2 linked regions of the Homo sapiens genome follow. The protein of the gene in region 2 purifies or fractionates together with the protein of the main gene of each other region. This does not show direct contact. Each region holds a gene or a part of one and is shown on either strand. Other genes may lie near its edges.

The links. The genes of interacting proteins can lie anywhere in the genome.
Region 1: the proteins of EDRF1 (region 2) and FYB2 purify together in Homo sapiens (affinity purification with mass spectrometry, with the first as the bait; one large-scale study listed by BioGRID). This does not show direct contact.

What each region holds. Positions count from the first base shown.
Region 1 is NC_000001.11:56,816,103-56,820,633, forward strand, and holds the start of FYB2 (FYN-binding protein 2), read right to left. Parts: upstream 3,303-4,531; 5' UTR 3,189-3,302; coding exon 3,180-3,188; intron 1-3,179. UniProt on the Homo sapiens protein: Adapter protein that plays a role in T-cell receptor (TCR)-mediated activation of signaling pathways. Required for T-cell activation and integrin-mediated T-cell adhesion in response to TCR stimulation.
Region 2 is NC_000010.11:125,736,245-125,740,749, reverse strand, and holds part of EDRF1 (erythroid differentiation-related factor 1), read right to left. Parts: intron 2,833-4,505; coding exon 2,761-2,832; intron 2,456-2,760; coding exon 2,305-2,455; intron 288-2,304; coding exon 99-287; intron 1-98. UniProt on the Homo sapiens protein: Transcription factor involved in erythroid differentiation. Involved in transcriptional activation of the globin gene.

The DNA.
Region 1 (4,531 bases), on a different chromosome or scaffold from region 2:
TGAAAACAAACCACCCCAAAACTGAGTGGCCTAAAACAAAAAGCATTTTTCTATATTTCACAATTTTGTGGGATAGGAATTTGGACGAGGCTCAGCTGAGTTCTCCCTCTGTTCCACAGGGTGTTGGTAAAAGTCATTTGGCTGCATCTCACCAGTGGCTGGTCTAGTCTGGAGGGTACTGATTTTAGTCTTGCAGGAATGGCTAGAAGGCTAGGCTTAGCTGTAACTGTCAAGCAGAATGTCTACATCACGTGTCTCTAGCCAGAAAGTATTGGGGTAGAGATTACTCACATGGGAGCTCAGGGCTGCAAGAGTAAGTGTTCTCATAAATGAGGTAGATGGGGTATGACCTTTTATGACACAGTCTCTGAAAGCACAGAGTGTCACATGTACCACACTGTATTGGTCAGAGTAGTCATGATTTCAACCAAGGGATGGGAACATGGGCACCACCTCTTCATGGGAAGATGTCAGAGAATGTGAGGCCAAGTTTTAAAATCCCCCATATAACACATACTAAACATCTACTACACACCCAGTGCTATTCTAGATAATGTAGATATATTATCAAGATGATACCTCCTGCCTGGGCCTCTTCCTTGAACTCTAAACCCACCTATGTAGACCCCCTAAACATATTACGTCTAAAACCAATTCCTAATCTGCTTTCAAACCTGCTCTGTGTTAAGTCATCTTGGTAAACCTTGATTCCACTCTTCCAGATGTTCCAGCTTTACAAGTTGGAGTCATCAACAATTTTCTTTTTTTTTTTTTTGTCTAATCCATTAGTAAATCCTGCTGACCCTACCTTTAATCTATTTCCAGCATCTGACCACTTCTAGCCACTTCATTGCTAAGACTGGTCTGAGCCACCAACCTCTCTTGCTTGGATTACTGCAATAATCTCCTACCTGGTCAGCCAGCTTCTGCACTTTCTGTCCCTAGTATCTATTTTCAAAACAGTAGTCAGATGATCCTTTTAAAATGTAAGCTGGATTGCGTCATTGCCTGGTCCACAATGCCCAGGTGGCTCTCCATTTCGCTCAGAGGAAATGCTTGAGTTTCAACAATGGCCTCCAGGGCCCTATATCATCTGACCCCACTCTCTGAACACTCCTTCACTTCCTCCAGCTCCAGTCATTCCTTGAAACACCCACGACCTTCTGCCTCAGGGCGTTTATATCTGCTGTTACTTCTCTGTAGAATGTTCTTCTCTAAGATATCCACACAGCCCATTAATTCCTATACCTTTTCCAAGTTTCTGCTCAAATGCCACCTTCCATTGACACCTTTCTTGAAATGGTCTCATTGAAAATAGCAGTCCCTCTTCCTGCCTGACCATCCTTATACCCTTCCCTGCTTTGTGTATCTACATTGCAGTTACTGCCATTTGACCCATATATAGATTTTTTTGTCTTCTCTCACTAGAATATGAGGTTTAGGAAGGCAGGTATCTTCAACCGTTTGGTTCACTGCTGCATCTGCAGCACCAAAGCAGGACCTGACCACACAAACCATGTCCTCAATAAATATATATTGAATAAATGAATATTTTGTTAATTTTAAAAAATGAAACCAATCCTTCTTTCAAGATGAGAAACCACTCTTATTTCTCTCTTGATTTTTTTCTCTCTCTGAGCAGTGAAAGTTATATAATCATATTAGCTTATCCCATAAAAATGTGATTAGCTAACAAACATGCTCTTTTGTACATTTTTGTCTAATTTGCCTAACATTCTTCCTGCTGTCCTATTGTAATCCTTGCTAGCGATGCTTGGCTTATAGTTGGCACTGACACATGTAAGCTCATGTCCCAGCTCTGCTGCCAGTGGTATGATACTGAGCAAGTGATAACATTGTCAGTTACCTCATCTACAATAAATGGGGCAATGGCATAGACCACACTGTATTGTCATCAGATAAACTGAAATAATGGATGCCAGTGCGGATCCTGGCCCATCAGAGATGGGGAAAATGTAAGTCAGTTTCCTTTTCTTACAAGCACGCTAAATCTATTCAGCCTGGCACTTTCCCGTCAAGGAGGAGTTTCTTAAAAATTGCTAAGTGGTATGGTCGAGGTGGGGGTGGCGGGGAGAACTCAGAGGAGGGAGATGAAGTCATACCAACATGCCCCTGCTCACCCCTTTCCAAAACTCAGCTATTTGGACTGGAGTGATTTGCCACAGAGAGAAACATGCCCTTTGCCCTGAGACAAAGGGGAGCTTTTCCTGACCAGCAAAAGCTAAAATGGATCCTCTGCCCTGATTTAAAACCAAACTTGTGGGTGAGAAGCCACATGATTCATGGGAGAAAATGACTTGACTCCAAATATATAATAAAAAGTATGGAAGCAACACACACACACACACACACACACACACACACACACACACACACATGCACACGCACATCAAAAGAAACTGACTTACTGAAGACGGAAATAGAGGAGAGTGGAGAATTGGAGAAGGAAAAAGGAAGATGTGGTCAGTCAGGCAAGACGTCTCCAACTGTGCCAACAGCACTCAGCCATCCAAGGGGCAGGGAATGCTGGCGTAGGGCAGGATACTTTTCCATACATCTCTATTTATACAAGCACCTCTGATAGTCTCACAAAGTAGTTATTGTACCAGTAATTCTCTTTCATGAGTGAGGGACCCAGGGCTCAGGATGACGGACACACTTGCCCCAGGCCACACAGTTAACAAGGAGCAGAACCCGGTCTAGAGCCACAAGCCACAAAAGAGCAATGCACAGCCGGCTTCCTAGCACCAAGCACTGCTCTCTGACCAGGAGGCCCGCTAATCACTGCAGAGGCCAGATACAGTCCACAAGGGCAAGTAAACACAGAGAGAAGCCAGCGGGCGCTTCAACGGAGGATCTGGGAATAGGTCAGGAGTCCAGCTGGCTGGGTAGAGCTAGGCCACATGCTGTCATTCCTCAGCACCTCCTGTCCCCTCACACTCCAGGTGGCACAGGACATGGCACACTCCTCTTCCCTCCCACCCGCCCTGAGCAAAGCCAGTGTGAGCAGAAATGCACTGGCTGACACCTGACATGTTTATTCCTGCCCAGGAGGCAGCACACACAAGCAGTTTTTCCCCAGGGCTCTCAAGTGGGAGGAACTTGTCCTGCAAGAAAAGACACACAGAAAGCCAGCAACAAAACTGAGACAGCCTTACCCCTTCCATTGCTTTCCTCCAAGGCAGAGTCAGGGAAACAAGCCCAGCCTCTCAGAGCTGGGTCCTGGGGCCAACAATCCGCTTTCCTCTGTCTCTGCTAGCCAGGGAGCAATCACTTCCCACAGGACACACCTGAGCCCAGGCTCCCCACCTGCCCCATCTGGGCCGAGGCTCCTCCCTTGCCTGGGGCTGGGCCAGGGCCGGCCGCCATCCTCCCAGCTTGGCTTAGACCAGCACCTGCAGGGGACTGGGGAGAGTACTCCACCTGCAGTCCTGCCAAGCCCACCTCTTCTCAGCAAGCGGCTCTTCCCGTTGCTCCCCTCCGGCTGGTCTGACAGTCACTCACTCTCCAGGGCATTTGTGCCCAGGCAGCAGGAGCTGTGAAGGAATGGGGATGGCAGGCTCCTGTTAGTACAGACCATGCAGGCTGGACAGTGTGATCCCCGTTAGTAACAACCTCTGCCAGCTCCGCCCCTGCAGACGGCTACTTAATTTCACAAACCCTTTCTCACGGTCAGGGAAACCAAAGCCCAGCAGGACAGCATGCCTAAGCCCACAGGGGGATTTAGTGGAGGCCAGAAAAGGAGTTAACATAAAGGAGCACCCTGTTTTTGGCCTGGTGTTTATTGAGGCATTTGGATTCCCATTTTAAAAGGTGAAGAATGGCCGGGTGCAGTGGCTCACACCTGCAATCCCAGCACTTTGGGAGGTCGAGGTGTGTGGATCACTTGAGGTCAGGAGTTTGAGACCAGCGTGGCCAACATGGTGAAACCCTGTCTCTACCAAAAATATAAAAAAAATTAGCCAGGTGTGGTAGTGGGTGCCTGTAATCCCAGCTACTTGGGAGGCTGAGGCAGGAGAATTGCTTGTACCTGGGAGGCAGACGTTGCAGTGAGCCGAGATCATGCCACTGCACTCCAGGGGGACAGAGTGAGACTCCGTCTCAAAAAAAAAAAAAAAAGTGAGGAAACTGAGTCTCAGAGAGATGGTAACACCTGCCCATGGTCACATAGGTAGTAACTAGAAGAGCCAGGGTTGGAACCCAGATCTGGCTGACTCTAAAGTGATTTTATTTTGCTGGGGTTATTTTTGTTTGTTTGTTTTTCTGACAGAGCTGGAGATGGAAACCCAAACCTCAGTTGCCAGTTTTGGGGCTTTCAGCTCTCCCGGGGTTGGGGATGGGCAGAGTGGGTGGCCTGCGCCCTGCTTTATGTGTAACCGGTGTGACTTTTCTTGCTTTGTCAAGTTCTTAGAAATCTTCTCCTGTCCTGACCAGGGAGAGGCGGGGTGGAGCACAGGTGAGGAGACCCCGCCTGAGGGCCATTTCCTCTAACAGGTGATTCCCAAACCTG
Region 2 (4,505 bases):
TACTAGAAAAATAGGAGTAAACTTCCACTGTGATTCAGATGCCTTCTCTGTTCTCTCTTCCCAGTGCCTATTAAACATATTCATTTATAGTGGCTTACCATGGCTTTGCAAAGCTAATTTAATGTATCGTAATGCTCTTCCGTATTTCTGAAGACTCATGGCAGCATCGGACAAAACATAATAGGCCTTTGATGACTTGAGAATCAGCTGAAGTTTCATTTTATGTTGCCAAGAGCCAGGGATCATTCCAGATTGACTGGAATAATTGCCCTTCTGAAGGGAGCCCACTGTGACATGGAGAGAAAAAAAAAGACAGCACATTTCATTTGACTGTAAGTCTCATGCACAAAAAATATTTTCTGTTTCTTGATGGAAACACTCTAGACTTAGGTGACAAGACTGGTAAATACTATGCTTTACTGCTTAAATACACTGGAGTGAAATGGCCGTGTTAAAAGACTCTCACTTGGGAGTTCTAAGGCCTTCTGCTTCCCTGACATCGGCAACTCTGTCATTCTCTTCCAGTGTCACTGACATAGCTAACCTCATGAGTGACACCTGTCTCCTTTTTCCAGTCTATGTGTCAACCTGTCAAAGTTTACCTTCCTAAAGCACAGCTTAGATCAGCGTGAAAGCCTGTCCTCAAACATGAAAACGGCTTCTCCCCACTTAGCTAGTTGCATGTTTCTCAGTCTCACTTCCTACTTGTCCATCCTACTACCCATCAGCCAATGTTAAGTTACTGCTTGTCACCTATAAACATGCCTGTTTTTCCTATCTCCCATCTTAGTTTACTGTTTCCTCTACAAGGAATACTCTTTATTTAAAGTCCAGCCCATCGCTACCTTCTTTACTCAACAAATGATCATTTTTCTGCCAAGTACTGTGCCAGGCACTGGAAACTGTGACATGAAGTTATATGGCCTCTATCCTTGATAACATAAACCACAACAAAATATGTTAAGTGTAATTAACAGACAAAGAACAAAATACTGTGGAAAATTTTGCTCTGCAAATAACAAAAACACCCACCCCTTCCCCCAGCCTGAAGGTTTCTCATTTTTTAATCAGCTAGAACACAAGTCTTTCAAGGCAATGAAAGGTACTTAGTCTTCATTATGGTTTAATGTGTGTATGGATTTTTTTCCTCTGCTGATATAAGCATCATCTGTGAGTAAGAGGCATTGTGAGAAACTAAAATTAAGATGAAGTTCTTGTTCACAACCGTGTGTGTGCATGTGTGTGTAAAACCATTTAATGCTGGAACTCTGACATAAGGCAGGCTCACAGGACAAAGTGGTAAGAGAATCAAGTAATTCTGATGGAGAACAGAGGGAAACATGGAGATTCTGAGCTTGAGCAGGATTTTCAACAGGGGAGATGGAGAAGGAGACAGAAAAGGCATTTCAGAAAAAAAGAATGGCAAAAGTCCTGGTGTGATCTCCTTACTGCCTGTAGGCCGAAGCCTGGCATACCAGCAGCACTATATAAATGCTGGGGAAATAAATCTATTCCTCTCCTACCTCCACCATGTTTGTTCAGGAAAAGAAGAAGGGTCCAGAAAGCGCTTCCACTATGATTCAGATGTACTTCAAACATACAGGCTTTCTACACTTTTTTTTTTTTTAAACAATTGAAACTGATTTAAAAGGGGGAAAGAAATAAGGTTGGAAAAAGAAATACAACTTAGGTTAAAATAAGAAATTCACAACTTCTGCTTCGAAGTCCATATATTCTTCATGATGTTATATTCCTGAAGAACTAGATAATTTAAAAGTGACATTTGTAGCTTATTCAAGTACTGTGCAGTAACAACAGCCTACACTTCTATAGTGCTTATTATGTACACTGTTCTGAGCACTTTACATATATTAATCATTTAATCATTTAACAACCCTTTAAAGAAACCATTATTATCGTCTCCATTTTGAAAGAGATAAAAAGTGACTCAAAGAAGTGGAGCAACTTGCCCTCGCAAAGCCAAGATATGAAGTTAGGCAGTCTGGCTAAGTCTGTGGCTCCTACACGATCCAGCGAGAACTCCACCAGGCTGAAGCATTAGTTCCCCACTGTGGGTAACAGGAAGATGCAGGCTCCTTATGCTCTTATTAGAAATGTCCATGAAACATCAAAATTATCCTTTTTATATTTCAAATGAAAGAATACTACCCCTAATTCCAGTTCACAGGATATCTTTTTCTCAATGCCTTTCAATTAATGCCTTAATTGACATAAGTCTGCTGTTGATAAAGAACCAGTGTATTATTCTATTGAAGGCCTTATTTGCACATCAATTCAACTTACTTTTGTCCAAAAACAAGGCCATCTGCTTCTCTAGCCCCTCGGGACCCCCTCTTGAGGATTCATCTTCATATTTTAACGGGATTGGAGTGCTGGGGTCAGCTGCTGGAAGGTCGCTTTCTTTTTTGATGCTGCTATCGACAGATTTTAAACCCTGCAAAAAAAGGAAAAGCATTCACTATCTATCTAACTTCAGGTCAACTGAAAACTAAATATAAGACAGTATCTGGACTACTGAATACGTTTAGGAAAATTTCCATCTCACAAACAGACTTTCAAAAACTATGTTTGATCTGAAAGATTTGGGAAAAACAAATCTGATTTTCACTTTATGCTTAAGGAAAAAAAAATCGCAGCAGAACACAATTCAGAATAACATTTAGATACCAACAAACAAGTGTAATTTGCATAATCAAGTACAAACTTTACGAAAAAAGTGAAGACTAAACTTAAACTTACCTCTAGAACATAGCTAAGCACAAGTCTACAGCGCTCTTCTGTGTCATGGCAAACTGGAAATGCACAACTGGGCTTGAGGAACAAACATAAAATTATTAATACACTACCAATGTATTAAGGTCAACATATTGTTTTTGTTGAAGATTAAATTACTGTAAGCATTATCAACAAAAATCTTGCTTAAAAAGATCCTACAACATATATGTTGCTTTAAGTACTTACAATTTTAAATACAATTCTATTATGACAAAAAAGCAAGAACTAGAGTAGTAATGTTTTAGACAAATATAGACATCATCTAATAGGTCAGCTCCACTCATAATTAGCACCGATACTGGACAAAACACAATTAACAATTAGCGTCAATTTAGAAATAACAAGTATCACCAATATTCTCGTTGTTTAATTTATTTGCTTAATTAAGGAGCAAAAGCAGCTAGCAACCTCCAACTATGAAGGATATTATGTGTAGGGGCTTCTGTGAAGCATTTCATTTCGCTGAATCCCGTGGGGTTGGAATTACTGTTCTCATTGCACAGAAGAGAAGCATGCACAGACAGTTTAGCAATTTGTCTGAGGACACGGTGAGTGAGTGGGGAGCTGGGACCCTGGAGCTCATGCTGACTGTCCATACCACAAAGTCATTCAATGAGGATAAGGAAAGGCTAACTAAAGACATGTTTATATGAATACTAAGACTGCATTTTTTGAGTGCTTCAGATACGGAACAGAAAGTGCTATCTGTGAAAAATAGTGACACTAACTCATTACATCTTTAATTATTACCTAATTGCCCCGTAAGTCCATGGCCTAGTGTTACAATGCAGTTTTCCAGATACATGTAACTTTTGCAATCAATGATTATAACCAGAACATTTTTTCACTCCACTGTGGAAGTTCAAGCTGAAAGTGAACTAAAATTTAGATGGACAGTTAATGACTTTTTCCTGCAGTCATTTAGTCAAATATTTACTGAGCACCCATAATGTGTTCTAGACATGGGAGATAGAGGGTCTGTACCTGCAGGGAGCTTACGTTCTAGTGAAGCAAGACAAACATTAAGAACTTCAGGAACAGATAGGCTCCTTGAAGGACAAAAAAGTAGAGCATGCTTTGGCCAGAGTGGTCAGGGAACATCTCCCTGAAGAGGCAACATTTCAGTCAAGACTTAAGCCTTAAAAAAGGCAGCCATGAACAGACCTAGGGTAGGTACATTCCAAGCAGAAGCAACAGCAAATACAAAGACCCTCCAATGAGCATAATCTTGATGCTTTTGAGAGAAAAAAAACCCAGCATGGCCACGGCAAACCAATGGAGCAAGTGAAGGTCAGAAAGATGGTCAATGTTTTAAGGTGACAGACATAGCCCCTCAAAAACTTGCTTAGAGTTTCCATCTGAAAGTTACACTCAGTGCTTAAATTAAGAGATTATCTGTAAATACGACTGTATTTCAGTTCAGGGAACAGCCAGAACTCTTAAGGCTGGCCTGGATCTAATCATAGGGAGACGGTATGTTGAAAGGTATATACTGCCTGGAGATACACTGATGGTAGAGTCAGTGCAATCCACACAGGGAGAAATCTGTCTGGCCCTCTCCAGGGCAGAGACATGTCCAATACAACAGACATGACCACAAGAGTCACGAAAAAAGTACTGTCCTATATAGCACAGGGATAATGTACCAGAGCTCACCATATACAGTTCCAAGAGCCACCCCCTTCTCTACTCTATGTTCACCAAGCAAT